Homo sapiens: one gene and its partner. The protein of the gene in region 2 interacts with the protein of the main gene of each other region in a pairwise test. Each region holds a gene or a part of one and is shown on either strand. Other genes may lie near its edges.

What was found.
Region 1: the proteins of SP3 (region 2) and GCH1 interact in a two-hybrid assay, tested with the Homo sapiens proteins (one study listed by BioGRID and IntAct).

What each region holds. Positions count from the first base shown.
Region 1 is NC_000014.9:54,895,211-54,911,322, forward strand, and holds the start of GCH1 (GTP cyclohydrolase 1), read right to left. Parts: upstream 7,617-16,112; 5' UTR 7,454-7,616; coding exon 7,111-7,453; intron 1-7,110. UniProt on the Homo sapiens protein: Positively regulates nitric oxide synthesis in umbilical vein endothelial cells (HUVECs). May be involved in dopamine synthesis. May modify pain sensitivity and persistence.
Region 2 is NC_000002.12:173,902,643-173,918,512, forward strand, and holds part of SP3 (transcription factor Sp3), read right to left. Parts: intron 10,625-15,870; coding exon 10,428-10,624; intron 7,616-10,427; coding exon 7,299-7,615; 3' UTR 1-7,298. UniProt on the Homo sapiens protein: Transcriptional factor that can act as an activator or repressor depending on isoform and/or post-translational modifications. Binds to GT and GC boxes promoter elements. Competes with SP1 for the GC-box promoters.

The DNA of each region.
Region 1 (16,112 bases), on a different chromosome or scaffold from region 2:
GGCTGAGGTGGGGATATGACTCACTGCCAGTGTCTGTGCTTCCTCAGCCCTCACAGGGAAGCAGTCAGCCATCTCCAATGCCATCTCCTCACGCTGGATTATATGCATGCTTCCCAAAATTTTGAACTGTTAACATGATTTATAAAAACTGTCTTGGCAGACAAGCTAAAACCTACTTTAACTGGAAATGTGACAGAGTCAAGACTCTTGCATATTCCCAAAAACTCATAAAAAACAACTGATGGAACAAGTTATACCCATTTAATCCTTGGTAGATAATGCTGTCTGAAAGGCTGTTCCCATGTATACCTGGAAGGGTCAGTTACAGGGGCATGAAGATCAAGGCCCTCAGAGAATAGCAGACTCTCCAATTTAACTAAGTGTAGGTTCTGAATAAAAGAATAGTGGAAATACAGGAAAGGTACCTTATATAGAAAGGAGAACTCACCAAGATAAAACCTTGAATATTTAAGAGAACTAGGATACAGCTAAACTGAAATGGCACAGAAATAGATCAAGACGAGCTGGTCTGAGCTGGTCCAAGGATCAGCTTGTGATGTAGATTCAAAGGACAGCCAGTTCCTGGGAGAGATGATAGCGTCTCCTCCAGCCCTCCCTCCTAGCCCATGAGCTACAGTCCAGTAGGGAATAGTACTAGGAAACCTATACAACCCTGACACCACCCTGGTCACAGATGACCACAGATGCTCCCATGGAAGGTACACACTGGAAAGTAGGGAAAAGGTGCACAAGGAGACAGTCATGGAGAGACGCTGCAACGTAGGGAAAACTGAACAAATTCCCCAGAATGCCAGGAATTTGGATCAATCCACACAAGAGGCACTGGGAGGAAAAATGGATTTTGAAGAATGTAAAATACCAACTTATTTTAAATTTTACAACACTTAAGTCAACATTACTAACCAGGAGTTAATATATAGAATACAGATATATAAAAGATATAAAGTCCTGTATCCTGTTTACAAGCACAGAAAAGTGACCTTCAGAGAAGTATGTTCTTATCCAAAAACAATATATAGTGGCCACTTGACTCATGCTCTCTAAAGAAATAAAAGGGATTGTGCAGAAGCGTTTATGGACCTAAAGATGTGGGTTCCCACTCACTCCTATCTCCCACCAGTATCCTTCCTTCTCCCTGCCATCCAGGTTGGTCCAAGACCCCACCACATTTCAGGTTCATTCCTTTAAGTTCAGCATCATCCTTGTTCTCACTACTCTGTCTTCTCTTTAATTATATATCTCTTTAAAAAAAAAAAAGAAATATTAAATCCTTAAACAGATCCCCTAGATACAGGCTTTCAAACTTTTGACTACAACCTACAGTAAGAAATGCATTTTACATCTGGAGCCAGTGCACACACACACAATTATGCCTATAAAACCTACATAGAAGTTTCTCGGCCGGGAGCGGTGGCTCACGCCTGTAATCCCAGCACTTTGGGAGGCCGAGGCGGGCGGATCACAAAGTCAGGAGATCAAGACCATCCTGGCTAACACGGTGAAACCCCATCTCTACTAAAAAAATACAAAAAAAAAAAATTAGCCGGGTGTGGTAGCGGGCGCCTGTAATCCCAGCTACTCAGGAGGCTGAGGCAGGAGAATGGTGTGAACCGGGAGACCGAGCTTGCAGTGAGCCCAGATCGCGCCACTGCACTCCAGCCTGGGCTACAGAGTGAGACTTCATCTCAAAAAAAAAAAAAACAAAAGAAGAAGTTTCTCAAAACACTTGTCCTTACTATATGTGATAGACTGATCTTATCCATTCTACTCCACTTTTTGTTTTTTTTTTTTTTTTTTGAGATGGAGTCTTGCTCTGTCGCCAGGCTGGAGTGCAGTGGCACAATCTCGGCTCACTGCAACCTCCGCCTCCCGGGTTCAAGTGATTCTCCTGCCTCAGCCTCCCAAGTAGCTGGGACTACAGGCACGCACCACCACACCCAGCTAATTTTTGTATTTTTAGTAGAGACGGGGTTCTTGATCTCTTGACCTCGTTATTTGCCCACCTCAGCCTCCCAAAGTGCTGGGATTACAGACTTGAGCCCCCGTGCCCAACCTCTACTCACTTTTTTTTTCTGAGACTGAGTTTCGCTCTTGTTGCCCAGGCTGGAGTGCAATGGTGCAATCTTGGCTCACTGCAATTTCCGCCTCCTGGGTTCAAGCAATTCTCCTGCTTCAGCCTCCCAAGTAGCTGGGATTACAGGCATGCACCACCACACCTGGCTAATTTTTGTATTTTTAGTAGAGAAGGGGTTTCTCCATGTTAGTCAGGTTGGTCTCGAACTCCCAACCTCAGGTGATCCACCCGCCTCGGCCTCCCAAAGTGCTGGGATTACAGGCGTGAGCCACCGCGCCCGGCTACTCCACTTTTTTTTTTAATGCTGTTGACCCAATTCACAGTTTGAAATATACAGATAGGGTACACTGATTCAGTTCTCTCTGTAGCAGTATAAGGAAGTGGCTAAGAATTCTGCAGTCAGACTCTCTGGATTCAAATACCAGCTCTACTACTTGTGTCAACCTCTCTGCCTCAGTTGCCTTGTCATGGGGATAAGAGAAATGTTTACTTGAAAACTGGAAGATGAACCAAGACCATCCAACGTAAAGCTTTTAACCCATTAAAAAGTACGGTCATGCATTGCTTAACAATGGGGATACATTCTGAGAAACACCTGAGAAATGCAGTTTCATATCGCAAACACTGAAGGAAGAGAGTGCTAACACAAACCTAGATGAGATAGCCTATTACACACCTAGGCTACACGGTAGAGCCTATTATTCCTAGGCTACAAACCTGTATGGCATGTTACTGTAATGAATGCTGCAGGCAACTGTAACACAATGGTATTTGTGTATTTAAAGATATGTAGGCCAGGTGGGATAGCTCATGCCTGTAATCCCAGCACTTTGGGAGACCAAGAGGAGAGGATCACTTGAGCCCAGGAGTTCGAGACCAGCCTGGGCAAAACAGTGAGACCCTGCCTCTATATTTAAAATACAAATAATAATAATTTTAGAAAGACATCTAAACATAGAAAAGGTACAGTAAAAATATAGTAGAAAAGACTTAAGATGGTATGTCTGTGTAGGGCACTTACCATGAAAGGAGCTTGCAGGATTGGAAGTTGCTCTGGGTGAGTCAGTGAATGCATGGTAAGTGAATGTGAAGGCCTAGGACATTACTGTACACTACTGTAAACTTTATAAACACTGTACACTTGGGCTACACTAAACATATTTTTTCTTCAATAATTTCAGCTTAATGTATTTAAAACTTTGACTCTTTTGTAATAACACAGCTTAAAACAAAAACACATTGTACAGCTGTGCAAAAATATTTTATATCCTTGTTCTATACCTTTTTCTATTTTTAATTTTAATTTTTATTTTTATTTATTTATTTACTGTTGAGACGGAGTCTCACTCTGTCAACCAGGCTGCAGTGCATTGGTGCAATCTCGGCTCACTGCAACCTCCACCTTCTGGGTTCAAGTGATTCTCCTGCCTCAGCCTTCCAAGTAGCTGTGACTACAGGTATGCGCCACCACATCTGGCTAATTTTTACATGTTTAGTAGAGATGGGGTTTCAACATGTTGGCCAGGCTGGTCTCTTTCTAACTCCTAACCTCAAGTAATCCGCCCACCTTGGCCTCCCAAAGTGCTGGGATTACAGGTGTGAGCCACCATGCCTGGCCCAATTTTCTTAATTTTTAAATTTTGTTAAAAACTAAGACATGGGGGAGACGAGAGGAAAAAACTAAGACACAAACAAACACATTACTCTAGGCCTACACAGGTCAGGATCACCAAGACATCACCAGACAATGTGAATTTTTCAGCTCCATTGTAATCTTATAAACCACCTTCATACATGTGGTCCATCATTGAAGGAAACATCATAATGTAATGCATGATTATATTCAATTAATGGCTTATAATAATCTTAAATGGGCTGGGTATGGTGGCTCACACCTGTAATCCTAGCACTCTGGGAAGCCAAGGCAGGCAGATCCCTTGAGCTCAGGAGTTCAAGACCAGCCCGGGCAACATGGCAAAAACCCGTCTCTATCAAAAATACAAAAATTAGCAGGGCATGGTGGCACAAGCCTGTAGTTCCAGCTATTCAGGAGGCTGAGGTGGGATCACTTGAGTCCAGCAGAGTGAGACTGCAGTGAGCCGAGATTGCGCCACTGCACTCCAGCCTAGGCAGCAGAGCCAAACCCTGTCTCAAAAACATGAAAATAAACATAATAATAATAATCTTAAATGGTCCGCTCCATGGACTTTTCTTTTCTGAAACAGGGTCTCCCCACGTTGCCCAGGCTGTTCTCCTGAGCAACAACTATCCTCCTGCCTCAGCCTCCCTAGTAGCTGGGACTGCAGGCACGCCACAAAACCTGTCTTTATATTGTGGTAAAATATATATAAAATTGGTCATTTTTAGCCATCTTGAAGTTACAATCCAGTGGCATTCACAATATTGTGCAACTATCACCACTCTCTAGTTCCAGAACATTTTCATGACTCCAAAAGGAAGCTCCAAAGGAAGCTCCATACTCATTAAACAATCACTACCCATCCCCCTCTTCTCGCCAGTCCCTGACAACTACTAATCTTGCAGTGTCTCTACATCCATGGACTTTTTTTTTTTTTGAAATGGAGTTTAGTTCTTGTTGCCCAGGCTGGAGTGTAATGGTGCGATCTCGGCTCACTGCAACCTCCGCCTCCAGGGTTCAAATGATTCTCCTACCTCAGCTTCCTGAGTAGCTGGGATTACAGGCACCTGACACCATGCCCGGCTAATTTTTGTATTTTTGGTAGAGAATGGGTTTTCCCATGTTGGCCAGGCTGGTCTCGAACTCCTGACCTCAGGTGATCCGCCCGCCTCGGCCTCCCAAAGTGCTGGGATTACAGGTGTGAGCCACCGCGCCCGGCCCATGGACTTTTTAAATAGTAAAACTTGACCAGAACAGTTTTTTTGTTTTTTTTGTTTTTTCTGGAGACAGAGTCTCCCTCTGTCGTCCAGGCTGGAGTGCAGTGGTGCAATCTCGGCTCACTGCAACCTCCTCCTCCTGGGTTCAAGTGATTCTCCTGCCTCAGCCTCCCGAGTAGCTGGGACTACAGGCGCCCGCCATCACACCCGGCTAATTTTTTTGTATCTTTAGTAGAGACGGGGTTTCGCCATGTTGACCGGGCTGGTCTTGAACTCCTGACCTCAGGTGATCCGCCCACCTCGGCCTCCCAAAGTGCTGGGATTACAGGCGTGAGCACCGAGCTCGGCCAACCAGAACAGTTTTCTAATGTGGAATGATGTGTTCTTTGCAGTTATTAATCCTCTTTAAATGAATCTTCGCTCATGAGATATTTCAGCTAACCATTTCTCAAGTAAATCTGTGAGTCACTTTAGATAATTCTGTGACCTGTCTCAGGGTCAGAAATTCCTCTCTCTTTGGGTAATTAGATCCATGCTAGATTACAGAACACTGTCCTATGAATTCTCTTTAAGGGAGGATTCCCAAAGCCTGGCCGATGCTGTGAAGTAAACCACTTTCTGTGTCTGCAAGGGGCAAAATGAGTAAGGCCTTAAGAAGACATTTCATTACATTGTGAAATATCTCACACACACACACACACACACACACACACACACACACACACACAAATTTAAAGCCCTAGACCTCCAAAGAGCTGATCCCACAGAAAACTGAAAGTTTATTTTTCAGTCTTTGTATTTTGAAATCTCTTCTGAGATTCCAAACTTTTGCAATTGAGGGGTAAAAAAAAGTGAATTTGGAAACAGAACTAGAAGTCACTGCCGGTTTTAGAGTGTAGCATCATTTCCTTTTGGGGCCCCGTCTCTTTCACATTCTGATTTCCCACCCTTCCTTTGGGGTGTGGAAGACTGGGCAAAAAATAACTTTCTTTTTCCCAGGGTCTATTTGGTGGAATCGCTCTACACTCCTTCAGAGAAATAACTGGGGCAGGGAGATTGCCTTTCCAGCGCACTGTTTTTCTTTCAAAAAACAGTGAACGGTAGAATGCTTCTTAGGGCAAATAAATAAATGTCACCAAGACACACGGAAGGTGTAGACTGGAAAATAATGTCTTTGGTCCCAGCTGTAGAAGCCAGAAGCTTTATTTTTTTAAACACAGACCAATACTGCTTCTCTGGCCAACAGGCAGCAAAGTCCCCATTTTCCACTCTCCATCACCCCATCTTGCATCCTACCCACACTGATTGCATCCCCACCCTCTGGGTGAAAAGCCGACACGCCTCAGACGCTAACAGCACCGGGTCAACCCGGCTTTATTTTAGGGTGGGAGGGTGCGGGGATGAGACTGAGTCCTGGAACCCACGGAGCCCTCCGAATCCCGGAGTAGCTTTACTGCTTTTTGCGGGGTTGGGGGTGGGGGGAGGAAACAGATTTCAGCAGCAAACTCACCCAATCAACCTCACACCTCAAACTCCGGGGAAGCCCGTGCCCAAAATTGTGCCGAATTTTGTAAATGTCCTGAACTGGAGTAAACTTGAGGTGGACAAAAAAAAAAGCACAACTCTAAGACTCCGATCCCCTGGCAAATCAGTGGGAATGCAGGTCCCCGAGGTTTCGGGGAAGGATCGCGCCGAGGCTTCAATCCAGATACACACCCTGACAATGGGATCTCAATAAGGAACTACCCAGGAAGCCGTCGCCGCAGCAAGTGCCCAGGTGATCCTTATCGTGGGCAAGTTTGGAACCGCAGGTACCCCGAGAATCCCGCGCTGGGCGCTCAGGCGAGAGGGCTCCGGGCTCCCGTCCACGCCCACCCGGGGCGTTCTAGGAGGGCTGCGCGCTGGGAGCGGGAAGGGCCCCTGGAAGGCGGCTGCAGCGAGTTCCGGGGCTGAGAGGTCGCTGCCACCCAGGAAGCCCCGACTGTGCCCCACGCAGGGCCTCGGCAGGGCGGCAGGCTAGGGCGGGTTCGGAGGTGACAGCGCCCGGCTTCCTGCGCCAAAAGTGAGGCAACTCCGGAAACTTCCTGGAGCCGGCGCGCGTTTCCTGCAAGCACCGCCCCCGCCGCCCGCACGCTCTAGCAGCCCGCGGGCGCACTGACCTGAGATGGTCTCCTGGTAGCCCTTGGTGAAGAACTGCATGGCCGAGGCCGCCCTCCAGGGCGTCTTGAGCAGCCCTTGCCGCTGGGGGTTCTCGCCCAGCGAGCTCAGGATGGACGAGTAGGCGGCTGCCAGGTTAGGGAGGTTCAGCTCGTTATCCTCCTCGCTGCGGGGCCGCTCGCCCTTCCAGCCGTCCGCGGGCTGCGCGCTCTTGGCCTCGGGCCGCGGGGGCTTCTCCGCCGGCCTGCTGGGCCCGGGCCGCGGCGGATCCCGCTCGGGGAACCCATTGCTGCACCTGGCGCCCCGCGGCTTCTCCGCCGGTGCCCGCACAGGGCCCTTCTCCATGGACCCGCCGCAGCCGCTGCCGTTCGGGAAGGACCCCGGGGCGCTTCGAGGTCTGCGGCTAAACTCCGCCGGTGGCCGCGGACAATGGGCTGTGGCCGGAGTCACCTGAGGAAGGTACGCAACCTGCTTAGATCACACTCCGAGCCGGGAGCGGCCACAGGCTGGAAAGCCCGGCCGCGCCTCCTTTTTATGGCCCGGCGGCTCAGCCTGCGCCGCGGAGCGCTCCCATTGGCCGGCCCCGCCTCGCGTCACGGCCCTCGCCGCGCCCCTCGGCCTCCCGCCCCCGGGGTCCCCAGCAGGGGTCGCGGCTCCGGAGACGCCCGGAGGGGTTCGCAAGCGCAGGGAGGGAAGGAAAAGGGCGCCGGCCCCTAGGATCAGGCGGGACCCCTCCACTTATTGCGGAATGAGCCGAACCCGAAAAGAGGCAGTCGTCCAGGAGCTGGGATCTCAGTGAGAAAGACGCGGTCTGGGCGCCCAGTCGCCCCCTCTTCAGGCCAAGAGGGCGCTGCATTGAAGGGCTCCGGTCCCCTCGCCCTGTGAAAGATCAGCAAACAGGTGGCCTTGCCTGGAGAGAGACCGAGTTAAGCCACCGATTAGGAACCAACTCTTAAGCTTTCAAGGCAAGAGAATAATGTGACTTCAGACTCTTGGGTTTAGTTAAAAACGCACCTGCCACCTAGGGGCCAGGTGGCACCGCTGTCGGGGCAAGTGTCACATCAAGTGGCCCTTATGTGGGTCCCTATGTCTAGAAGGATAGGATTTATGGTTGCTAGAACTTTGATCCTGGAAAAATTGATTTGCAAACGAAGATAGGACTTTCACTTAAAATCCATTTCCGTCGGTGGCTCACGCCTGTACTCCCGGCGCTTGGGGAGACCGAGGCGGGAGGATCGCTTGAGGCCAAGAGTTCGAGACCAGCCTGGAAAACATAGCAAGACCTCATCTCTATAAAACCCATCGCATTTTCTAGAAACGCAGTTGTGCAGATTTGGTGCTCAATTGTTTTACAGTTCCATGCAAAGCGTCTTTCCCCAGATGTTGGTACAAATTGTGAAATGCTATTCACCAACTGAACTCTTAACCAGTGACATCTGCTGTAACTGTTTTCTTTGAGATTAATAAATGGACCTTTTTCCTCACTTGAGGGATTATCTCATAATGCCGAAGGTGAGCTTTAAAACATGTATCAAAATAATATTTTTTTTCTTTTTTTTTTTTTGAGGCTCACTTCATCCTCCGCCTCCTGGGTTCAAACGATTCTCCTGCCTCAGCCTCCTGAGTAGCTGGGATTACAGGCACCTGCCACCATGCCCGGCTAAATTTTTGTATTTTTAGGAGAGGTGGGGTTTTGCCATGTTGGCCAGGCTGGTCTCGAACTCCTGACCTCAGGTGATCCACCTGCCTCGGCCTCCCAAAGTGCTGGGATTACAGGTGTGAGCCACCATGCCTGGCCTAATGTAGATTTTCTGACATAGAAGCAGGTATTAATAGGCTTAGGATCAAACAAACCAATAGGGAAGCCTGTGGAATTATTCTATGCTAACAATGTAGCTTGGTCATTATAATAAGTAATTAGTATTTATGATACATCTGCTCTAGGCGCAGCCCCGTTGGAAACATTCAGGAAAGAAATATGGACATTGCCTAGCCTTGTAGGCACCTTTACTCCAAAATGGAAGAAATGTTCATATCAGTGGGGTTATTTATTTATTTATTTATTTATTTATTTATTTATTTTTAAATTTTAATCTATTTATTTAAGAGCGGGTTATGAGACTGGCTAATTTTTGTATTTTTGGTAGAGATAAGGTTTCACCATGTTGCCAAAGCTGGTCTCGAACTCCAGGGCTCAGGATTATAGGCCTGAGCCACCGTACCCGGCCCAGTGGGGTTTTTAAATAGAGAATATGAACATCCTTTGGAAAACCTCTTTGTCATTTTCCTCTTTATTAAAATTTTTAAATTTTTTATTGTAGGTTTTTATTGGGAGTGGGGCCCTGCAACATTTTTTTCCTCTAACTGTGCTGCCCACTGTCTGCTGATACCTCCTGGTCAGAATTATCTGCTGGGTCTCAAGCTATTTCAAGCATAGTTGAAGACAACATTCAAAGGATGACCTTGCATTTAACAAATGAAAACAAAGATACTAAGTGAGGTACTTTAAAAATGGAGAGAGTAGATAGAGATGCTTTCAGTACGAATTTATTTTTAGTGGCAATCTTTCGTCTTCCTTTAAAAACATGTGTAAAGATTAACTAATATTGTATTCCACAAAGACAGTTTCTAATGAAATTTTTACCCTAAAAATTAACATTTTCTTACACGTATTGCCACTGAGGCACCTGCACCTTTGTTGCAGGACAGGGCCTCTGGATACATGCTAACTTGTAAAATGGAGGCAGTGCCTTTCGGCCAAATGCCCAAAAATAATACAAGAAAACTTTGAAATCACCAACATTATATGAATAATTTAATAGTAAAATGTAGATAGTTGACAAGGATGGTTATAAGTAGCAACAGGAGAAAAAAAGAGGAATAAACCAAAAGGGAAGTAGGTCCCAGATAATTTATTAGCATAAAATGGTTCAACAGTAATATTATGAGCATTTACAGCCAGGAATTGTTACCGCATCCATGTTTTTCACCCAGTAAGGGATTCATTTTCAGCTTGGACCCAGTCTGGGAGTTTCTTTCTACCAAAAAGCCAAGGAATTTTTTAAAGTCTCTAATTTCTAGGACAGCAGCAGAACAAAGAGGCAGATGAGAAAGACACACCAAGTCAGAGACTGAACACTGCAGTGCTACAGAAATGTACAAAGAGTTGTTTGCCAAGTGTGATATGATGATACATGTATATGTAGGTTTTCAGCCATAGTACCTGGTTCATAACTCACAGTCTTTTGTTACAATGTTGGGGCACTTTAGGCCTCAGAAAATAGAATCAATCTCTCTCTCTCTCTCTCTCTCTCTCTCTCTCACCTTCTGCTCCCCTTCCACTCACTAAAGGCAGGACTCTAATCATCTCCCGCCTTTCTGATTACGGATCATAAACCCTCATTGCAAACAGGGTCCTGCCTCATACCCTGGAGGAAGCATGGCTGCACAGAGAGGTCAATCACACCTTGACACGGCTGTCCATGCTTCAATCATGCCTATACAACGAACATAAAAGGCCCAGACGGCAGGGCTCAGGGAGGTTTTGGACAGCTGAATATGTGGAGGTTCCTGGAGGGTGGTGTGCCCAGGGAGGGCATGGAAACTCCATACCTCTTACCCCATACCTCACCCTATGCATCTTTTCATCTGTATCTTTTGTAATATCCTTCATAATAAACTGGTAAACGTAAGTGTTTCCCTGAGTTCTTTGAGTCACTCTAGCAAATTAATTGAACCCAAAGAGGGGGTTGTGGAAACCCCAACTTGAAGCCAGTCAATCAAAAGTTCCAGAGGCCCAGACTTGTGAGTGGTGGAAAGGAGGGGCCAGTGTTGGGGACTGAGCCTTCAACTTGTGGGATCTACAGCTATCTCCAGGTAGGCAGAATCAGAATTGAATTAAATAAGAGGGAGGACACCTAGCTGATGTCCCCTGCTTGGTGTGTGGGAGAAAACCCCCACCCATTTGGTCACAGAGTCTTCTGTGTTGACTGTTGTTGTGGTATAACAGCAGAAGAAAACCACAGTTTCAATTTGTCCAAACACCAAGGGTAATAGACAAACTAACATTGGGTATTTGGCAACAGTAATTGGAAAAAAGCAAATTTAAGTGAACTTGATGGAGGCTCTATACTTGAAATTCAAACTCTGGAGGAGATTTTGGATCAAGGTAGAAAGGTACAAAGAAAAGGTGGCCGGGCATGGTGACCCAAGCCCGTAATCCCAGCACTTTGGAAGGCCAAGGCAGGTGAATCATTTGAGGTCAGTAGTTCAAGAATAGCCTGGCCAACGTGATGGAACCCCGTCTCTAATAAAAAATACAAAAATTAGCCGGGCATGATGGTAGGCACCTGTAGTCCCAGCTACTCAGGAGGCTGAGGCAGAAGAATCATTTGAATCTGGGAGGCAGAGGTTCCAGTGAGCCAAGATCACGCCACTGCACCCCAGCCTGGATGACACAGCGAGACTCCATCTCAAAAAAAAAAAAGGCCCAAGAGCCTCATATTGAGTATAATAAGCCATCCAAAGCCTAAATGTACCCATAAAGGATACCCTAACAGACATGTGTCCCTGGTAGAGAATCTGCAATACCATCTCAGAAGAACAGGCAGATGCTAAGAGGGATGCTAATAGAAAGTGCACCTCAGCGCTGCTGAACTCTGTCCCTGCCTCCACATTACCCCAGAAGAAGGGATGCAACACAGCTCCTCAAGCTCCAGACTGCAGCAGAGTCAGGAAAACAAAAGGGCTTCTGTTATCATGGAAAAACCTGAAGATGTCTCAACAATATCAGAGATACGCAGTGTCAGGAAACAGCCTCCCAAGCATGGGCAGGGGGCAGAGAAACAGCATGGCAACCGTGCAAACACACACCAGCCAAACAAAACAAAAGAAAACCAAGGGGGAACATCATATGGCATGCAGGAGACATAAAGGCAAATAATGCAACTAAGAAGAAAGCAAATCTCATGGAACAGAAGAAAATTCCTCACGAATGTTTGATGCCAGAGACTAACTCAATAAAAGTATAAATTCAGGCTGGGTGCAGTGGCTCATGCCTGTAATCCCAGCACTTTGGGAGGTTGAGGCAGGAAGATCACCTGAGGTCAGGAGTTCGAGACCAGCCTGGCAAACATGGTGAAACGCTGTCTGTATTAAAAATACAAAAATTAGCCAGCGTGGTGGGCACCTGTAATCTCAGCTACTTGGGAGGCTGAGGCAGGAGAATGGCTTGAACTTGGGAGGCAGAGGTTGCAGTAAGCTGAGATCACGCCACTGCACTCCAGCCTGGGCAACAGAGCGAGACTCAGTCTAAAAAAAACAGACAAACAAACAAAAATCATGAATTTAATAAGACAAAAGCCAAAATAATAGAATTGAAAGGGGAGCTATGGATCAACAAAATAAATTGAGGACCATCATTATTATAGAATCAATTAGAAAGAACCATGTACAAAGTAGATACTGCTGAAACTGTAATTGCTGACATAAGGAAAGACGTGAGAGTGAATACAGAACAAAAGACAAACATGAAAGCTATTAGAGAAGACAAAGATGATCCAGTGTAAGGATAATTAGGGTTCCTGAGGTAAAGAACTCAATGAATGTGAGGGAATGTAATCAAATATATCACACAAGTGTATTAATCCTTACATTTATGTTTGATTGATTTTTGACAAGGATGCCAAGACAATTTAATGGGGAAAGAAGACTCTTTTCAACAAATGATACTAGGACGACTGGATATCTACATACAAAAGGAAGAAGTTGAACCTCTATCTCACAACATATACAAAAATAAACTCATCGGGTAGGTGCAGTAACAGCCACCTGTGGTCCCAGCTATGCTGGAGGCTGAGGCTGGAGAAGTCTTGAGCCCAGGAGTTTGAGGCCAGCCGGGGCAACATAGCGAGATCTTATCTCTAAAAAATAAAACAAAAGAAAATCAGAATGTAAGAGGTAAAATTATTAAACTCTTGGAAGAAAATATAGGCATAAATCTTCAAGACCTTGAGTTAGGCAATTGGATTTCTTAGAAATGAAACCAAAAGTAGCGCAACAAAAGGAAAAATGTAGAAAAAACCTAACAGCCATGTCATGCGGTGGTAAAGAAACAACCTTCAGTTTCACTGTCTGGGTTCATGGCCTGGCTCCATCAATTATCTTTGTTGTCAATGGGCAAGTTTCTTAATTTCTTTAAGCCTGGTTCCTCCTCTGTAAAATGAGTATTATATATAGAGTCTTTGTCATAGGCTTATTGTGAGAGTTTGAGAGAGCAACAGTATTAGACATATACAATTTGAAAAATAAGTATTGGCCATTATTAATGACAAAAATGTCTTTATACAAAAGCAATATTTTAATTCTAGCAAGTTCCCCTAGATTTTATTGTTGCTACAACCAGTGAAAAAAGAAAAAATTTAAAAATTTTTAAAAAGGCAGATCCCTTGGGGAAAAAAAAATAATATTTGGTGCTGCTTTACTTAAGAGAGTCTAAGTATAGACAGAAAACTTGAAGTGTTCTTTTTTTTTTTTTGAGATGGAGTCTCACTGTTGCAAAGGCTGGCCTTGAACTCCTGGGCTCAAGAAGTGATCCTCGGCCAGGCGTGGTGGCTCACACCTGCAGTCCTAGCACTTTGGGAGGCTGAGGTGGGCAGATCACCTGAGATCAGGAGTTCAAGACCAGCCTGGCCAACATGGTGAAACCCCTAAAAATAAAAAAATTAGCTGGGCATAGTGGCGCATGCCTGTAATCCCAGCTACTGGGGAGGCTAAGGCAGGAGACTCCCTTGAGCCTGGGAGGCGGAGTTTGCAGTGAGCTGAGACTGTGCCACTGCACTCCAGCCTGGGAGAAGAGCAAGACTCTGTCTCAAAAAAAAAAAAAAAGAAGTGATCCTTCCGCCTCAGCCTGCTGAGTAGCTGGGATCACAGGCTCGTGCTACCACACCCAGTTTAAAGTGCTGTTTCTTATCATTAACTGAAAATTAATCAAAAGTTGAAATAAAACATTTCTGTTCCTTGGTTAATGAAAATAGAAAAAAAATTTTTTTTAATTATAATGTAAGTCAATAGGGTATAGTTTGTTTCAAGATTTTCAGCAACAGAGTGATTTAACTGAGGTAAAACTGTATTGTAAATACTACAAGTTTGGTGTTTATTTATTTATTTTAAAGAAGGGGTCTTGCTCTGTTGCCCAGGCTGGAGTGCAGTGGCATGATCATGGCTCACTGCAGCCTTGAATGCCTGGGCTAAACAATCTTCCTAGCTCAGCCTCCCCAGTAGCTGGGACTACAGGAGTGAGCCACCATTTAATATTGTTGCTCTCTCAAACTCTCACACCTAAACTCCACCACCCAACTAGAGTTTGGTTTTTTTGTTGTTGTTTTTTAGAGATGGGGGTCTCACTTTGTTGCCCAGGCTGGTCTCAAACTCCAGGCCTCAACAGATTCTTCTGCCTTGGCCTCCCAAAATACTGGGATTACAGGAGTGAGCCACCGTGCTGGGCTAATATATTTTTTAATGTACTTAGTGCAACACCTGATGACAGAACTATGAAATGATACCTCAAAAGATGCATTTCACTGAATGCAATTTACTATTAAAAGCCCATATGCTGAGTTCCCAACTAGGCATTGCGAAATGACACCATTCATCAAGAAGGCTTTCAAACTTATGTATGATGAGAACACTGGGTCAGGGCTCTATCATCTGAGGAAGGGACAATCTAGACATGGATCAATATCTATCTGCAGAGCATTATCTCCAACACAACAGTGTCCGATGGCAGGGCTGTATGTCTCATCTGCACATTTCCACTGCTCCCCACTTCTCCCGAGCTCCTCTATCGGTAGTAGTTATTTTGGGAGGAGGCCTAGTTTATCCAGAGCAGAGGATTTGTTTTCTAGTCAGCAGATGCTTTCAAGTTGTAATTTAACTGTCAATGAAAAATAAATAAAAGGTGTTGCAAATTCTGTAAGATCTTAGCAATTCATGGAAGCTCTGTTGTTATTGAATGTATCTCCCTCTCAGTTGCCTGGGGAACTGCATTTTAATGTCACACATCAAGCAGCTCTTTCCTGAATGTAATTGTAGTTTTTCTGATGTCATGGTTAAAGCTGTTCAAATGTTTGGCTTCTGGCAAATATTTTCTAACATCATTCATGACAGTGATGGATCTGAAGCAATTTTAATACATTTTTAAATCTCACTAACTTATTAAATAACCAGAGAAAGAATCGTATATAAATTGAAAATATATTCATTACCAGAAGAAGTGTCTAGGAAGATACATGTGAGTCTGTAATGATATGAGGTTTTCATGACTATGATTGGTTCATTGCAGGATAGCATATTAGAGGCCAGGCACGATGTCTCATCAGGGTATGCCATATACCAAGATGAAGCCCTATACCAGATGGACCATTGGTTTCTACAAGTCACTGCTAGATGCCTACCCCAATATCATTTCTCCCCTTCTTTTACTAAAGGATCTCCAACTCAGTTCAGAGAGGCCTGGACTTAGTTCAATACACTTGGACTTGACTTTAAAAAAACACACACGCATTTTCAAGTTCCCTGCAGTTACAATGGCCACATGACATAGTTCTGTCCAATGAGTTATCAGTAGAAATTGCTGGATGGCACTTCTGGGAAAGGCCCTTAAAAGGGGGCAGATTGGTTGCTTTTCTATGTCTAAGGAATATGATAATTAATATTGATATAATATCTGTTTATACCCATCTTGTCCCATGAGAAAATTCTGAGTTAATGTGCAGTTCTGCTCAGGTATTAGATTAACATTTTCATAAGGAACCCTAGTGACAAAAACTGTTGAATTTTAGGCCGGTAGGGAGGTGTTTTTGAGCAGGAAAGCCTGAGTGCCCCTCAGTTTCCAACATACAAGAAGTCCTAGGCCAGGCGTGGTGGCTCATGCCTGTAATCCCAGCACTTTGGAAGGCTGAGGTGGGCAGGCCACTTGAGCTCAGAAGTTCGAGACCAGCCTGGG
Region 2 (15,870 bases):
TTTAGAGAAAGATGGTAGTGTGGATACATCTCAAAAACATGAGTGGTAAAACAAGTCCCAGAAGGTTTTGTACAGAATGATACCATTTATATGAAGTTTCAAAATCAGAAAAACAATCCTAGGTATGCATACATATAATAAGGATATAAAACCACTCATGGTATCATTCTGATAAACATCAAATTCAGAGCTGCAATTACTTATGTGGGTAAAGGGAGACAAATGAAATGAGACAGGGCTATACAGATTTCAGGCACAACTGTGATCATTCCTTTCTAAAAGAAAAAATATATAGGTAAAAATAAGACTATAAAAGTTGGGTGATAGATACTTAGGTATTTGTTACATTGTTTTCTGCATTTTTCTGTATTCTTGAAATGTTTCATAATAAAAAAGGCACAATACGAATACTAGCAGTTTCGTTAATAAATGTTGGCTGACAATTAGGTGGATCAAGGTGACTTAACAAGGTGAATTAACTCATTAATACAACAATAGTTGAAGACAACTATTTTCAAGTGTAGGAAGACTACTGATTCTTCCAGTGCTTACATTTACTAATACATAATATAATATGTGCCAGGCATTATGGAAAGTGGTTTACATGCATTAACTTATTTATCTCCATAATCACTCTATGAAGATGACGCTAGCATCATTCTCATTTTATAGTTAGAGAACAGGCTAAGAGTGGAAAGGTAAAGAGTGAAAGGTCACATAGGTGGTAAGCGGCAGAACTGGGAGACAAGCAAGCCCATGTGTGTCTAAGTCCCAAACCTATGCACTTAATCACTATATTATGCTATGAAAGGTTTCAACTTTACTAAATGAATAAAGATGGAAAAAAACACACAGAGTTACTAGGAGTAGAATTGAGAAAAATGCAATTAACACAACTTAAGAATTTTTAAAGGATCAGGGTGTGAGGAGGACTAAGTAATTGGGTATACATAATTAAAAGAAAGACCCAAACCTATTCTGAGTCCTAACACACAATGAAAATATACGTGACTTGGTGTGACATAGAAACACAGGCTAATGCTGGCAGAAAGTCAGTATTCCACAAGACCAACCACAGATAAAGATACAGCCATCTGTTAAGAGGGCGTCCTGAAACTGTAGAGGGACTTCTAAGGCTTTTAATCAGTTTTCTTGGACACATTCTACCAGTCTTTCAAGGCCCACCCTTTCTGATTCATCCAAGCTATATACTAAGTTCTGCCTTGTCTAAACCTGACTCACTTGGCAGGCAATAAACGTGACTTTTTGTTGGTATTTCCTAGGACGGCGGTCCCCAAACTTTTTGGCACCAGGGACTAGTTTTGAGGAAGACAATTTTTTCATGGATGGGGGTCGGGGGGTGGGGATGGTTGTAGGATGAAACTGCTCTACCTCAGATCATCAGACATTAGATTCTCTTAAGGAGGGCACTACCTAGATCCCTCGCATGCGGGGTTCACAACGGGGTTCGCACTCCTATGAGAATCTAATGTTGTGGCTCATCTGACAGGAGGCAGAGCTCAGGCAGGAATGCTCGCTTACCTCCTGCTGTATGGCCTGGTTCCTCACAGACCAGGGACCAGGACCAGTCTGTGGCCCAGGTGGTTCCTCACAGACCAGGGACCAGTACCGGTCTGTGGCCCAGGGGTTGGGGACCCTTTTCTATAGGATCAAGTCATCAACTCTATGGTGTTTTACGAGAGAATATACTGTACCTCAGTTGTCTTAGTTGGCATTATTTGGTAGCAAGTAACAGCCTTCTGACTTAAGAAAAAACTAAGTTGGGGAGTCTCTCTGTAAGGTTTTAAGGCTATCTTGTGGAACCCCAGGAGGATGAAATGCAGATAGTGAAATGCAAGACACTGGAACAAACACTGCCAAGTTATCAGGAATCAAGAAAGCCATTTTCTTTTTCTTCTGGGGTTGAATGTCATCTTTGCTTTCTCTGCCTCCCATGTATGTTCCAGATGTGACCTCCCAAGACATCAGTTTTCCAATTCCAAATTCTCAGGAGAAATCATCTAATTGGCTCAACTTTGACCAGATGTCCACTCCTTGTCTGATTTCTGAACAGCTCCTCACGGAAGGTGGCAGAAAGTAATGCTCAGAGAAGGGATGTAAGTCGGACAGATATCCTAAAAGGTCACTAAGCCAATACTTCCTGTATTTCGTTGTTGTCGATTAATCGGAGGCTTAGACTTTTTTTTGTGGGGGAAGGATGGAGGGGAGAAATAACTGCATTTCTCTGATGGCCTTTCCTAATCTTAAAAACCACTTCAGTGCTAGACTTTATCTTTCAGTCGCAATGAACCTGAAGATTCTTCGGCTGGTTTTTAGAAATGTTCAAATAGGATAGACTCTTACACAGGGGTGTAATTTCCTCAAGAAAATACACATTTAGGTGCTTCAGTCTTTTCTTCTTATTCCATCCTTTTCTGATAGGGCAGTCACTTCAGACACTTCATCCACTATCACTTTAGGTTCCAACTGTTCTTTTCACATTTTTGCATTAGAAATAAGACTTCTTCTCATTTTGGAAAAATCAATGTATGAACCATAGTCAAACAATGAAAATTCTAAAACACTTCACTACAGAAAAATGGAATCTCCAGAGTTAAGGGGGGAGGAAGGCATTGGAAGGAGGTTACCATTTGAATCTCTACCGTTAAGTCAGGCACTATGCTGAATGCTTATATTTTAATACAACAATCCTATCAACAGGGAGTACTATTGTTAGCCTCTTCATGGATGATGAAAATGAGGTTTTAAGGTAAGAAAACTACCAATATCACACATCTAGTAAGTAGCTTAGCATAGATTCAGAAGCAAGAGTTAAAAGGTGAAAAATGGGGAAAAGGACTGAAGGAGATAGGCCTTCTCAGGATATCATTCTTAACATCAAAAACTGTATCTTAAACGTATTTAATACAATGAAGTGGCATGAATCATGTTACATGACAATATACATGACACCTTTTTAAAAAATATATTCATATCATGAAGACTTTATAACATCAAATAAAAGCCAACATGGGAAAAAAAAAAACCTTGTATACCCTTTAGACTCCAGATTTGGCCAAGCGTGGTGGCTCACGCCTATAATCCCAACACTTTGGGAGGCAGAGGTGGAAGGATCACTTGAGCCCAGGAATTCAAGACCAGCCTAGGCAATATAGTGAGACCCCATCTCTACAAAACAAATTAAAATTAACTGAGCATGGTGGTGTGCACCTGTGGTCCAAGCTACTTAAGAGGCCGAAGTGGGGAGGATTGCTTGAGACCAGTAAGTGGAGTCTGCAGTAAGCCATGATTGCACCACTGCACTGTGTGACAGAGACAGACCCTGTCAAATATAGGGAAAAAACAAACAATAAACCCTGGACTAGAATGAATTTTTCTGGGGAGAAGGTGTAGGATTCCAAAAAGACTAGGAATCACTGACAAAAAAAATTCTTCTCTTTTGCAATTTGGCAGCCCCTCTTAAAAATTTTTCCACTCTGTCCCTCACAAAGTCCCCCATCACCCAACATACCACACTGTACCTTTGCAAACGCCATTTCTGCTGAGTTTCCCAGACTTCATGCAGAATTCTCCCTCTTCTAGGTTTCTACAGTACTTTGTTTCTGCCACTAATATATATATTTACATTATACGCAAATCTGTCTGAACAAGGCAAGGGGCCAATGTTGTTTCTTCAACACTAAATAAAATTATGAGGTGATTTCACAAAAATATCAAATTTGTACCAAAGATATCAATTAATTTGTTTTGTGCTTATTGTCAGACAACAAAAGACTTAGTACTCATTCATGGCAGTCAGTTTTAAACATACTGTTTAGTGAAAAATAATTCTTTTACAACAAAAACGATTGTTACCAGCTTCATATAATTAAAACTGAAAACCAAATTGTGTAACAGGTAGCATAACATGTCAGTTTATATTATTTTAAAACCAAATGTTATTCCATAATCATTTATGCAACAACCCCAAATTTCAAACAATATTGAACACAATACAAATTTTTCATAAAACAAAACTTTTGGGTCTGAGTAGGCAGTACTGGAATTTAAACTACAATTAAGAGCCTAAGGGGATGCTTGCTCTATTTTAAGTGATTGTAACGCAGGAGTGTTTAACAGAACCACTTGAGCAGCTGTTTCAAAACACATATACACTCCATCTCCAGAGATGTTGATTTAGTAAGCTGAGGTGGCTACCAGGCCTATGGAATCTCTAAAATGCTCCCCAGCAATTTCTAATGAACAATACTGTTTAAGAACTATTTTCTATGAAATAGGCTTGACATGCTTTCAGCTTATATGTATGTGTATTTTTAAGTATCTTAAGCATTGCCACTATTTTGAAAGACCAAAGTTATTTACAGGGCATCTGACTTTCTGCGGTAGGTGTAGCTCCTTTAAAAGGTTATGTGCTTTTTGGTTGAGTCACTTTTCAGTAATTAAGCCTCAATCTATAGAAAATGAGATGCTCTTTAAGTGATACTTTCTTAAATTAAAATTTGAGGTATACAGATAATCGCGTCCACTAAATGTTACAACAGGAATTATTTGTACATAAATATATTCAATATGCACTAACTCTAGCCTTTACAAAAATAAAGCAATTGACAAAACACCTATTAGAGTATACCTACCCTGAGAATTATACACAATACTAATAGGTTTTATAACCAGAAAAAGTTGACATCAGAGCAAATCTTCAAATGTTGTTTCCAGAGTATATTCAACATTTTAAAATATAAAAATAGAAATATTTAAAATTATCTACACTGAGGTTACATAACTTTGGTAAAAGTTCCAAAGTTCACTAATATATTCCTAGGGGGCACTAAAAAAATCTACAACTTTATTTAAATAATTTTCAAGACTACTTACTTTCTTCATTGCATTCATTCTCCACGAATTCATAAAATATGCATGGACACCTATCGATTCAAAGTACACCATAAACTTACTGTAAAAATCCAGTATTACTTAAAACATCTCTACTATCATTCAAATGGTTTAATCTGACTTAATGGGCAGTTTGCTCAAGTGAACCACCTGCTGCTCACTTAATTCTCTTCACATTAATCTTAATTTAAAAATTCTAAAAATTACCTAAAGGATTTTAAGATTCAAAATCTAATCCCTGTAACTTCAAAATAATTGTAAATTCTAGTGGTTCCTTTATATTATTCCAAGTAGAACTTCCTATTTTACATCACAGGCTTAAGTCTCACATTTAGAAAAACTGTCCATGTTTATGCGTGTCTAGAGTTCTCCAATGCAATCAGGTATTACAGACAGAGTCAGACTGGGCCTGGAAAACAGAAAATGGACATCTTTACCCCCACTGTATACATGTGTTAAGAAACTTGATTTTTACTTTAAAACATCTACAATACACAATCACATTAATACTCTTTCCTCCTACTCTGCCTTTATAATGATGAAACACATGCAAATTCAAAGGCAACTTTTTCAAGTAACTCCTGCCATGGTTACCAACGCTTGTCTTATCATTTTCAGGAGTCTTAATGTAAATTCAGGTTTTCGATAAATCAAAATATTCTGCATTGCTTTAAAACGGAAAACAAAAAAATTGCAAAATGGTACTGATAAAACTGATATGAATCAATGTGGGCTAAGGGCTAAGACTTTTTTTCAAAAATTTTATTTAATAAGCTCATTCTTATTTACTCTAGGTAAAAAATTAGTAAATGACCAGTGTCTCTATATATCTCTTCTTCAAATAAATGCCTGTTTACAATTCAGTGTCTAAAATCAAGAATCTAAAAATAAAAAGCCAAGTTGAAGAAAAATAAACCACCAATTCTTACCCCATACCACTGCAATATTTTTTATGCATAGGAATACAACAAACTCAAAAGAAAAAAAAATAGTGTTTTATTAACTACCACACTGTTATAATACACTTTAAACGTACAATAAGGTAGCCTTTAAATTTGAGGTGGTCTTAAGAATAACAAATGAACAGAATTCCAAATTTTTGAAATAGGTGAACTGCTGCAGTTACAGGTATACATTTAGGAAAACTGTATAGCTCTTACAAGACCAGCAATGTAACTTTATTTTGTACATTTTTGAATTGAAAATATAAACAATAATTAAAAAATAAAAAGAAAATACAGCATAATAAAAAACATACGCTTCTCAATTAAATGTACTGGATACATATAAATTTTAAGGGAAGAAGCAAAAAAGGAAAATGATTGATATTTAAGTGCAGACTGACTACCTAGACAAAAAAAAAAAAGACTTAAAAAAATATCATAAAACCTCTAGTTCTTCTATGACTAATATCCATATGGTTGGAGTATCGTCACTATGGAAGTGATTTTGTTATGTTTGCATATGTTACACTTTACTGGTAATTTACATGATGGCTTTTAAGGCCCTGGGAGACATGGTTTTTGGAAACAAGATTGGATAAAAATCACTGCTAAGACGCAATACACCTTATTTTTTTGGTCCTCCAATAGTCAAGAAAAGGGATAATTCACTATAACATTCTCTTACCACCCAAATGCCTCAACTTATACATTTTAAACTTTTTTAAACATTGGTTATATTGCCCAACTTCGTTATTGAAAGAATATTAACAAGACATTATTTTGGCAAATTAAATCTTAAACATGGCTTTTCAACAGGATTTAAAAGGTGACTATCCCTAGAGTTCCATGTTAAAATGTAGTTTTCAAAATCTTACAAGAGTAATGCTTAAAATATTGTACATAGTTAACCTAATTAAAATAATTAGCTTCAAAATGACAAATTGATAAGCTAAGTAAAGCCTACACTATGTAACATTTGCTTGGAAACTTGATTTGTCAGTTATGCATAATAAAAATTCCAGTCATCAAGAAAATTACAAAATTTTTTATCATAACATGATTTCTTTCACCCACCAGCTTTTTTATCTTACAATAGATAAATACCAACATGTTCTCATTTTTACACTAAACCACACAGGATTGATGCATTTGGTTAGACTACCATTCGCATTGTTAAATTCAATTTTCTCTTTATATAACTTGGTAAAATTTCATTTCTTCTAGATTCCAAAAGTACCTACAAAACCCATGCAATTTTACCATTTTTAATATACTATGGAATATCATACAAAGTAAGGCATTTCAGTGTCATGTATAACCAAGTTACTGTCAATCCAAAAATTTTTGCACATCAATAAAAAGATATCTAAGAACTTAGGAACAATATTCTTCTCACTACTGTATAAAAATAACCACAATGAATAAGTATTTGTGTAATATTTACTCCATTGTCTCATTTCCAGAAACTGTGACAAGCTGTAAAGGTATTTCAGTGTTGGTAAGGATATCTTGATTGCTGGTGGCGGAAGTATTAACAGTTCCTATCCCTGAAACAGAACCTTGTTGAATATTTGCAAGGATAAGCGTTGTTCCTCCTGCAGTAATCAAAGTATCATCTCGCGCAGCTTCCACAGATGCCAGCACTGTACTGCTAGAGTGAATACCTTTTTTATTCTGGTGTGTTTTAATATGTTTGGCAAGGTGGTCACTTCTCATAAAGCGTTTTGAACATTCTGGACAAACAAATTTCTTCTCACCTGTTAAGAAAAAAATTAAGTTACTTGGTTTTAAAAATTCAACTTTAATAGCTCAATCATCTCCCCCAAAACAGAAAGTAAGTCAACGCTGACAGGTGAGGATGGGAGCAGGGGTCTATTAAAATTGTATTCATTTTACGAGCTACCCCTGCCAGATTTCTCTTACAGAATATTTCTCCTTAAATCTTTCATCTTTACTTTTTGATGACTAGCAGTCTTCAAACATGTATTATATAATAGATGGATATTCAAATAAGACTTTAATATCTCAACTACGCTAAGAGTTTGTTTGAAATACCTGTGTTAAGATGCCAGCTAAAAAATAAGCATCTATAACACACTTTAAAGTCTAAATAAAAGTATATTCTTTCACGCTATAATTAAAATACTAACATGCCATGTTCATGATACTAAACCTTCAACTCTTAAATATGAATTAAAGCAACAGGGTACTTCTAGATTAAAGAAATGACACCACAAGCTTGAGATCCAAAAAGAATGAGTAATCCTTAGAAAAATGAATCTGGCTAGCTGACTTGACTTCAGCTACAACAATCAAGAACAAGCCTAATATGTTAAGATGTTAAAGCTGTTAAAATCCTGATGCCTAAATTTATTTCCCAGCATGAATAAAGTAAGTTTAAATACAAAAGACAGACTGAACTTCTATTATGTTGAAGACCGACTCTGCAAGATTACCAAAAGAGAAGACAAAAGGCCAACCTAAAAGGAATTCAGAGAGAAATCAATAAAAATCAATCAATAAATCTAGTAAATATTTTCTTAATTCCTTTCTTCAAAAATGTCTTAGCTTGTATCCTTTGTTCTAGCACCTCTACTCTACATAGGTCTTTATCAGACCTCATGCTTGAACTATACTGCAGTCACATCCTAGTCTCTCTCTCTCTCCAGACTATCTTCCTTAAAGACCAAATTTTATTACATCAGAAAACTTCAAGATTATATTAAGTGATATGGAAATGCAAGGGTAACTTGCAGATGACGTAACAGTTTAGATGCTCCACTGCCTAATTTACAAGGACCTTTAAAGTGTGCCTCAATCCTACTTAACAGAAATGTTATGTAAAATCTCATCCTCATTCACCGCTACAAAAAAAGGTCTCTCACTTCTTCTATTAACATACCACCATTTTTCTACTAAAGTATTTCCCAGTTTCTCTTGTAACATTAGTCCTGAGAGGTACTCCATGGCAAACGGCACAAGGTTAGGAAATGCTACACACACATTACATCACTAACTTATAGATGCAAGCTGTCAATCTAGCATTTAATTTAAAGGTCCTAAGAGGTACTGCCTTGAAGGTACTTATACCCTCTTTGGCCCACTATTTCCTACACTTATTTGATCATTGACCTTTTTCTCCCTTTTACATTATTCCTTTTTACAACCTGCTGATAAAATCCTACTGAGGAAAATTCTGTTAACAGGGCCATCATAAGATCTATTATCCCATACTTTACTATCCCAAGCAGTAATTATCTCTGTTTCTGAGCCTTTTCAACAGCAGACTGCAACGCAAAATCTTTTATCTACCTTTTTTTTTTTTTTTTTTTTTTTGAGACAGGATCTCACTTTGTCACCCAGGCTGCAGTACAGTGGCATGACCTTGGCTCACTGCAACCGCCGCCCCATGGGCTCAAGCAATCCTCCCACCTCAGCCTCCTGAGCAGCTGGGACTACAGGTACACACCATCCGCCCGGCTATTCTTTGTCTTTCTAGGAGAGACACGGTTTCACCATGTTGCCCAGGCTGGTCTCAAACTCCTGAGGCTCAAGCAATCTGCCTTCCTTGGCCTCCCAAAGTGCCGGGATTACAGGCATGGGCCAGCACGCCCTGCAGCCTTATCTACTTTCTTAATTGTCTGTTGCAGTTTCATGTAGGTTAATCTCATCTGTCTACCTACCCAATGAGAGACAGGAACTAAAACTATTAGAGCATCTGTATACTACTACAGACTTCATAGGTAATTTTATACAATACTGAAGGCCAAAGTAGGATATGTGAAGCAACGTCAGAGATAGTTTATTCGCTTAACCTAATAGGGAACTTGGATTGGAATCCAGATGACTTCAAAATCCATGTTGTTCTCCATTTTACCATGCTTCTTCCAAGCTCTCTAGGGATTGTAAATACATAGTTTTCAATTCTCCAGTGTTGAGCATAGACTGATGAACACTTTAATCATTTACATGGTAGTAGGAAAAAACTATCTCTAAGTTAACACTGTTAGGTTTCAGTGTAGATCAGTCACAGGTCCATTTCATTTAACAACCACACAACACTATGTAAAAATAATATAATCAGAGAAAGTCTTCACATCAACATTGCCTTGGTTATTCCTCAGTGAAATACCTTTCCCTTACCTCAGAGATACTAAAAACAAAAGAAAAGGTGAAATGCCCAAATATGTCAGAAGAAACAGGAGTATTTTTTGTTACAGTGTTAAGAGGAAAGAAAAAAAATAGGATAGATCAAGAGTAAAAGCTGACAACTAATTAAAAATGTTAACAGAATAAAAATAGTATAAATGTGGTTTAAAGCATTCAATAATGTCAACAAAAGCCACCCAAAGTCTACTTAAATATAACTTTATTTTAGAAGATAAGCCAGACTGACTTGTTCTTTGGAATTTGTGTTATTAAGATGGTGTTACTAAAGGTAAAAATTGGATGTAATTCATTGTATTTTAAATCGATTCAGTTCAGTAAGGAATGCTAATAAAAAAGAAGTCAAGGCAGTTATGTAGCCCTATAATTCATTTTTGTCTGTTAAAAGTAAGTATTAGTAACCTGTATGTGTTCTTCTGTGCCTCTGTAATTCATCACTTCGAGTAAATCTTTTACCACAGTACATCCAGTTACAAACAAAAGGGCGTTCTCCAGAATGCCAACGCAGATGAGCTCTCAGATGTGAGGTCTTCCCATAGACTTTACCACATCCTGGTATATGACAAATGTGTTGCTTCTTTTTCCCAAGATTGGTACCTCTAAAAAACACACATAGAATAATATATACTTATATGAAAATATTCAAATGGACATTACCATTTACATCATATATCCCCATGTTGAATTTTAAATAGAAGACATTATCATTACAAAGTCAATCAGAAACCAAAACCATTTAAAATCAGTTTAAATGAAAATTTATGTATTTCAAGCATATACATTTTATATATTAACCTTACTCCAGAATTAATGTGATTGTTGTCCAAATGTAAATATGCTCAAGAATTATGTAATTAAAAGGACATTTCATATGTAAAGAATGTACAATAAAGCTATTTATTCTTCTATCAGAACCATTCACAAATTCTACGCATAAGCCTGATCCACTTAATTATATAGGAAACTAAATGTGGTCTGTATTCAAAAGTCGTCAGATAATCAAAAATATATTTAAACCAAAGAATGAATACGTAACTGATCACAGGTACAATTAAAAGATATAGGCAGCTTTAGCAGACTTTAATATGATTTAAGAATATTTGTTCATATTTGTGTGGCCACACTCTGAATATACACTGACTTGGAGAAAGCTTTTTTTTAAATCTAGTTAAAGCAATGGTCTGAACTCCCTTAGCATTAGATGAGATAAATACAAATCAAAATTATCTTTACATTTAAAATTCCCTTCATATTAACCATGTAAAAGATACCCAAAATTAGACACAAGAGATATAATAAAATACAGTTTTCTCCACATCACAAAATTGGACATTTATTACATTTCAGTATTTGATACCAAGAGCAGGGTTTAGAAGATATGAGATTAGATGGGTGAACAGAGGTATCTTAGCCTAAGCAAGAAGAAAACTTTTTTGATCCCAGAATTGATCATTTGAATAGTATTAAACACTACAGAAAATGTTATTTCTCAACCTTTTAAAATAAAAAAAAAAATTAGGCTTGTTACTGAATAAAAATAAATTAGTTTTTAAAAAACATGACACTTTGGACAAAACAATTTGTATAAACTTTACAATGTTTCTGAGTTTTTTTAAAAAAGTACATTTAGCCCCCTCCCCAACTCCCCTCCTCCCCCAATCTCACAGTTTAGGCATATCCTGTAAAACTTTCTATAGCCTGTAAATCCTCCTGTATACAATACACCTATCGTTTTTCAAATTTACTGGAAAAATGCATATTTCCCCACATTTATATTTTAATGTACTCACACTCAGTAGCATGTGAAATTGCCATAGGACAAACAGTGCTAAACGGTGCAGTGCTGGCTGTTAGATGCCATAGGTGTTCTGAACAGGGAGACATCAATGTGGGCTCCAGTAGTTAGAGAAGGCTTCGTGGAGGAGGTGGGTAGGATTTAGATAGAAAGGAGGGAAGGCATTCCAGGCAGAGGAATAGCATAAGTAAAGACAAGGAGGAGTCATGCTGTTGTCTCAAGGGCAAGGATGTCATAATCTAACACAATTCTAGTTTCTGCTCCAGTCCACCCCCAATTTCTACAACTCTTCAAAGAGCTGAGTTAAGTGAAACAGGTTTTTCTGGCTCCCTTGCAATGCCAAAGTCTTACTAACCAAAGCCAATATTGATTCCATTTAATTTAGATTTTTAAATTTATTTTATTATTTAAAAATCCCTAAGAAAAACAGCAATGTTTGTGGCTACTGGTGTACAAACCAATTTTACATATCGTGTTCACCATAGCAATTTCACAGAGAACCCAATTCAGTTCACTCGTGTACTCATTATTTCATGCCTCTCCTCTAAGCCTACCACTCAGGTCAATAATCAACGCGCTTTTACAAACTCAAAAGTGCATTTCACAAACTTAGCAAAATTTAGCATGGGAACACTAACAAAGCACAAGACTAACAAATTAACAGCAACAGATCTGGGTTCTCAAAGAAGCAAGAAGCTAGGGAAGGTATTTTTAACTGAATTATTAGGAAATAAGAAATATTATTTGAAAATGGGACAGGCATCTAGGAAAGAAAAAACATAGGGGCGGGGTTGCACACATATTTAAGGAAAAAGCTCAACATCCAGGCCCAAAATTCTATTTAAAAAGAAAATTTCATTCAAAGTAAGATATAGATATGGTAGATGTGGATTTACGGCATGTCATACCAAGGCTTGAAGGGAGAGAACTGAAGTGAATTTCTCAACAAAGTTCAGGAATAAAAGATTTAAAGTTTTCTTCTTGATTAATATCCACACCACTAATGCCTATAATATAGGAAAAACTAATAATTTTACGTTTTTATTCTTGAGTGTCTAAACTTGTTCCCAATAATTTAATAATGCTAAGATAGAGTGGAAGCTAAACTGTGGGTAGAGGAGTTAAGAAAAGTTAAGTAAATACACTCTCTTCTGCTCAGGGTGGGAAAAACAGGACATAAACTGAAATGCTGACAAAGAAAACAGATTGTGCACAATTTTAAAAATATGGACTGATGTTTAATCCATACAAAACCTATATAACAATCATGCCTCTAGAATGTATTTTACTTACAATTATTTGTCTCTCACTAGGTTATCTCTCACTAGTTTAAACAGTCTCTGAAAGCTGGTTCTGCTCAATAAATATTTGCTAAATAATTACAACTTTTAAATATTTTATATTTTACACCTTACTTTAAAAGGTAAACAAATAAAATTTACTTCTCTAAAGATGAATAAAATCAGTTCTCTAAAAATGCCATCTTGCCCATATTCTTTAAAAAAATAATGGTTGCAAAAAAAGACAAATATTCTAAAAAACTTTTTTAATTACTATCTGTATCAACTTGCAGAATACTTTAGAATAGTTTGGATTTACTACCTATGTTATGCTTCTATCAATTAGGTACAATTGTCATTTATACAAGTGTGTCTATCACACATATACTGCTTGAATTTTGTTCAAACAAGCTCTAAGAAACAATATAGTTTCTTTTCTTAGGAATCTCAATTTTTATTGCTTAGAATAAGTGAGCTATTAAAGAATGAAGTCACAAAAGTTCTAGAAAAAATATAAATGAACATTTTTATAATTCTCAGAATACGGAAAACTTGTAATAGCATGGTAACAAGGCATCTAATAAAGGAAAGGCTGACCAACTTTAATTTTTTGTGCTTAAAATGTTTGCAAGGTGTAAGTGATGGAACTGTTTCTTTACTTGTGTAATAACAATGCATTCTACAAACCACTGACAAAGGCAATGTAAAACTGGGAAAAAACATTTGCACGTGACAGAGTTACATAAATTAACAGATTTACAAAAAAAAAGAAACAATTCAAAAAATAAATTTTAAAATGGCAAAATAACATCCCCAAAAATGTTCAACCTCACCAAGTAATTTAAAAATATACTAAGACAATATTAAGGTATTTTTCATCTGTCAGACTTTCAAAGGTTAAAAATAATTGTAAAATTCATTGTTGGCAAAGGTGTGGGAAACTAGATACTCTCACACACTGCTGGTTAGAGTATAAACTAGCCTTTCTAGCAGACAATTCCCTTTAACCCAGCAATTTCACTTCTGCCAACTTATACAAATAAAATAATCAGACAAATGTGCAAAGACATACGTGTAAGATTATGACAATAAATTCCCAACAAAAGATGTTAAATCACCCTACATCCATACAATAGAATACAACAGAATACTATACAGCCATAAAAATGATTCAGACTATATAGACTTGAAAATATGGTCACAAAAATTCTCAAAACAAGAACAGACATATAAAACAGTGAGAATAAGATGATTCTACTTTAAAATACATGTAACATCTTAAAGGACAAACACAAACACATTACTAGCTTAACTTGAAGAGGGGTGAGATTTTGGTGTTTTTAAATGTCCTATGTGTCTACATTTTTATGAGCATGTTTTAGTTTAATAAACATAAACTAATTAAAACATTTTCATTTTAAAATAAAGAATAAGTGAAACAAAGGCCAGGCCTCCGTTAGATTTGACTTTTGTGAATAATTTATCTTAAAAGCCCCTCTAAAATGAGTTTCAGAAAAGTTACTGCCTAGTTAGAATTCACAATTTTAATTGACCAAAATATGTCAAAAAACAAAACTTTAAACTAATTACAATAAACATGAATACCTAAGGATCAGATGTAGAAGGAGAGTCACTTGGGAGGCAGTATAGTTTAATGGTTAAGGCTCTGGAGTAAAACTAGGTCCAAATCCCTGTTGTGTGTGCTCTTAGGAGTCACTCAACCTCTCTATGTCTCACTTCTAACACCACTGGGAATACGGTAAACTCTCAATGTTACCAGTTGTTAGCAATTATTATTACTGGAAAGGGCTGGCCAATGTGCAACTCAAAGGCAGATAGAAAAGCTCTATTAGATCAAGTTTGTTAACTCTATTAAAAGTACATTTTATCTACTTAAACAGTGCATTTCTAAGAAAGGTATGTTAATTTTCACCATGACAAGGGATTTGGTTAAGTATGGCTTTAGAGTTCTATCCGTTTTTGCTCTATATATTTCAAAGCTGCACAAAAAAGGGACCGTGACTATTAAATCTTCTTGGTGGAAATTTAATATTATTAACAAGAAATACATCTCTGTCTTATTTGGGGCTTTCACCTCAATTCCGTCTCGTGTGATATATTAACACTGCTATCCAAGTTTTCTTTTTGTTAATACTTGCCTGATAAATCTTTTTCCATCCCTCATCTTCAATATTCCTGTGCCAATTATTTCAGGTGTTCTTTATAATTAACATCAGTCTGGATCTTGTTTTTTTTTTTAAAAAAAATATGATCTGAGTCTCAATCTCTTCATTATTAAGCTTAGTACATCCATATTTAACATAATTTCTGATCATTTTGAGTTTACTCCAGTCATGTTATTCTGTCTTAATGTTTACCTTTAAAAAGACTGAACTGAAATACAATCCCATTTTTTAAAAAATTCAATCTATTAAGGCTTATTTTTCACTTCTAAGAAAATGGAAATACTTATGCTTATCAGCCATTCCTGAACTTAATTTTTACGTAACTACTATTCTCAACCTAAAAAATCAACTTTTTATCTATATTTAGGCAAATTCCATTGCTGGTTTGCAAACAGGCTAATTTCTGATCAGTGTGGGCCTGTTAAATGGCATCTGCTGTACTATTTTTGAAACAGCAAACTAATAATTTTAGTTTAAAAAACATTGAGAACTGAAAATCCAATTCCATATATTTTGTTCTCTAACTTCTGCCACACGCATACACACACACCAAAAATGATCATGTAATAATTTCTCATAATTAA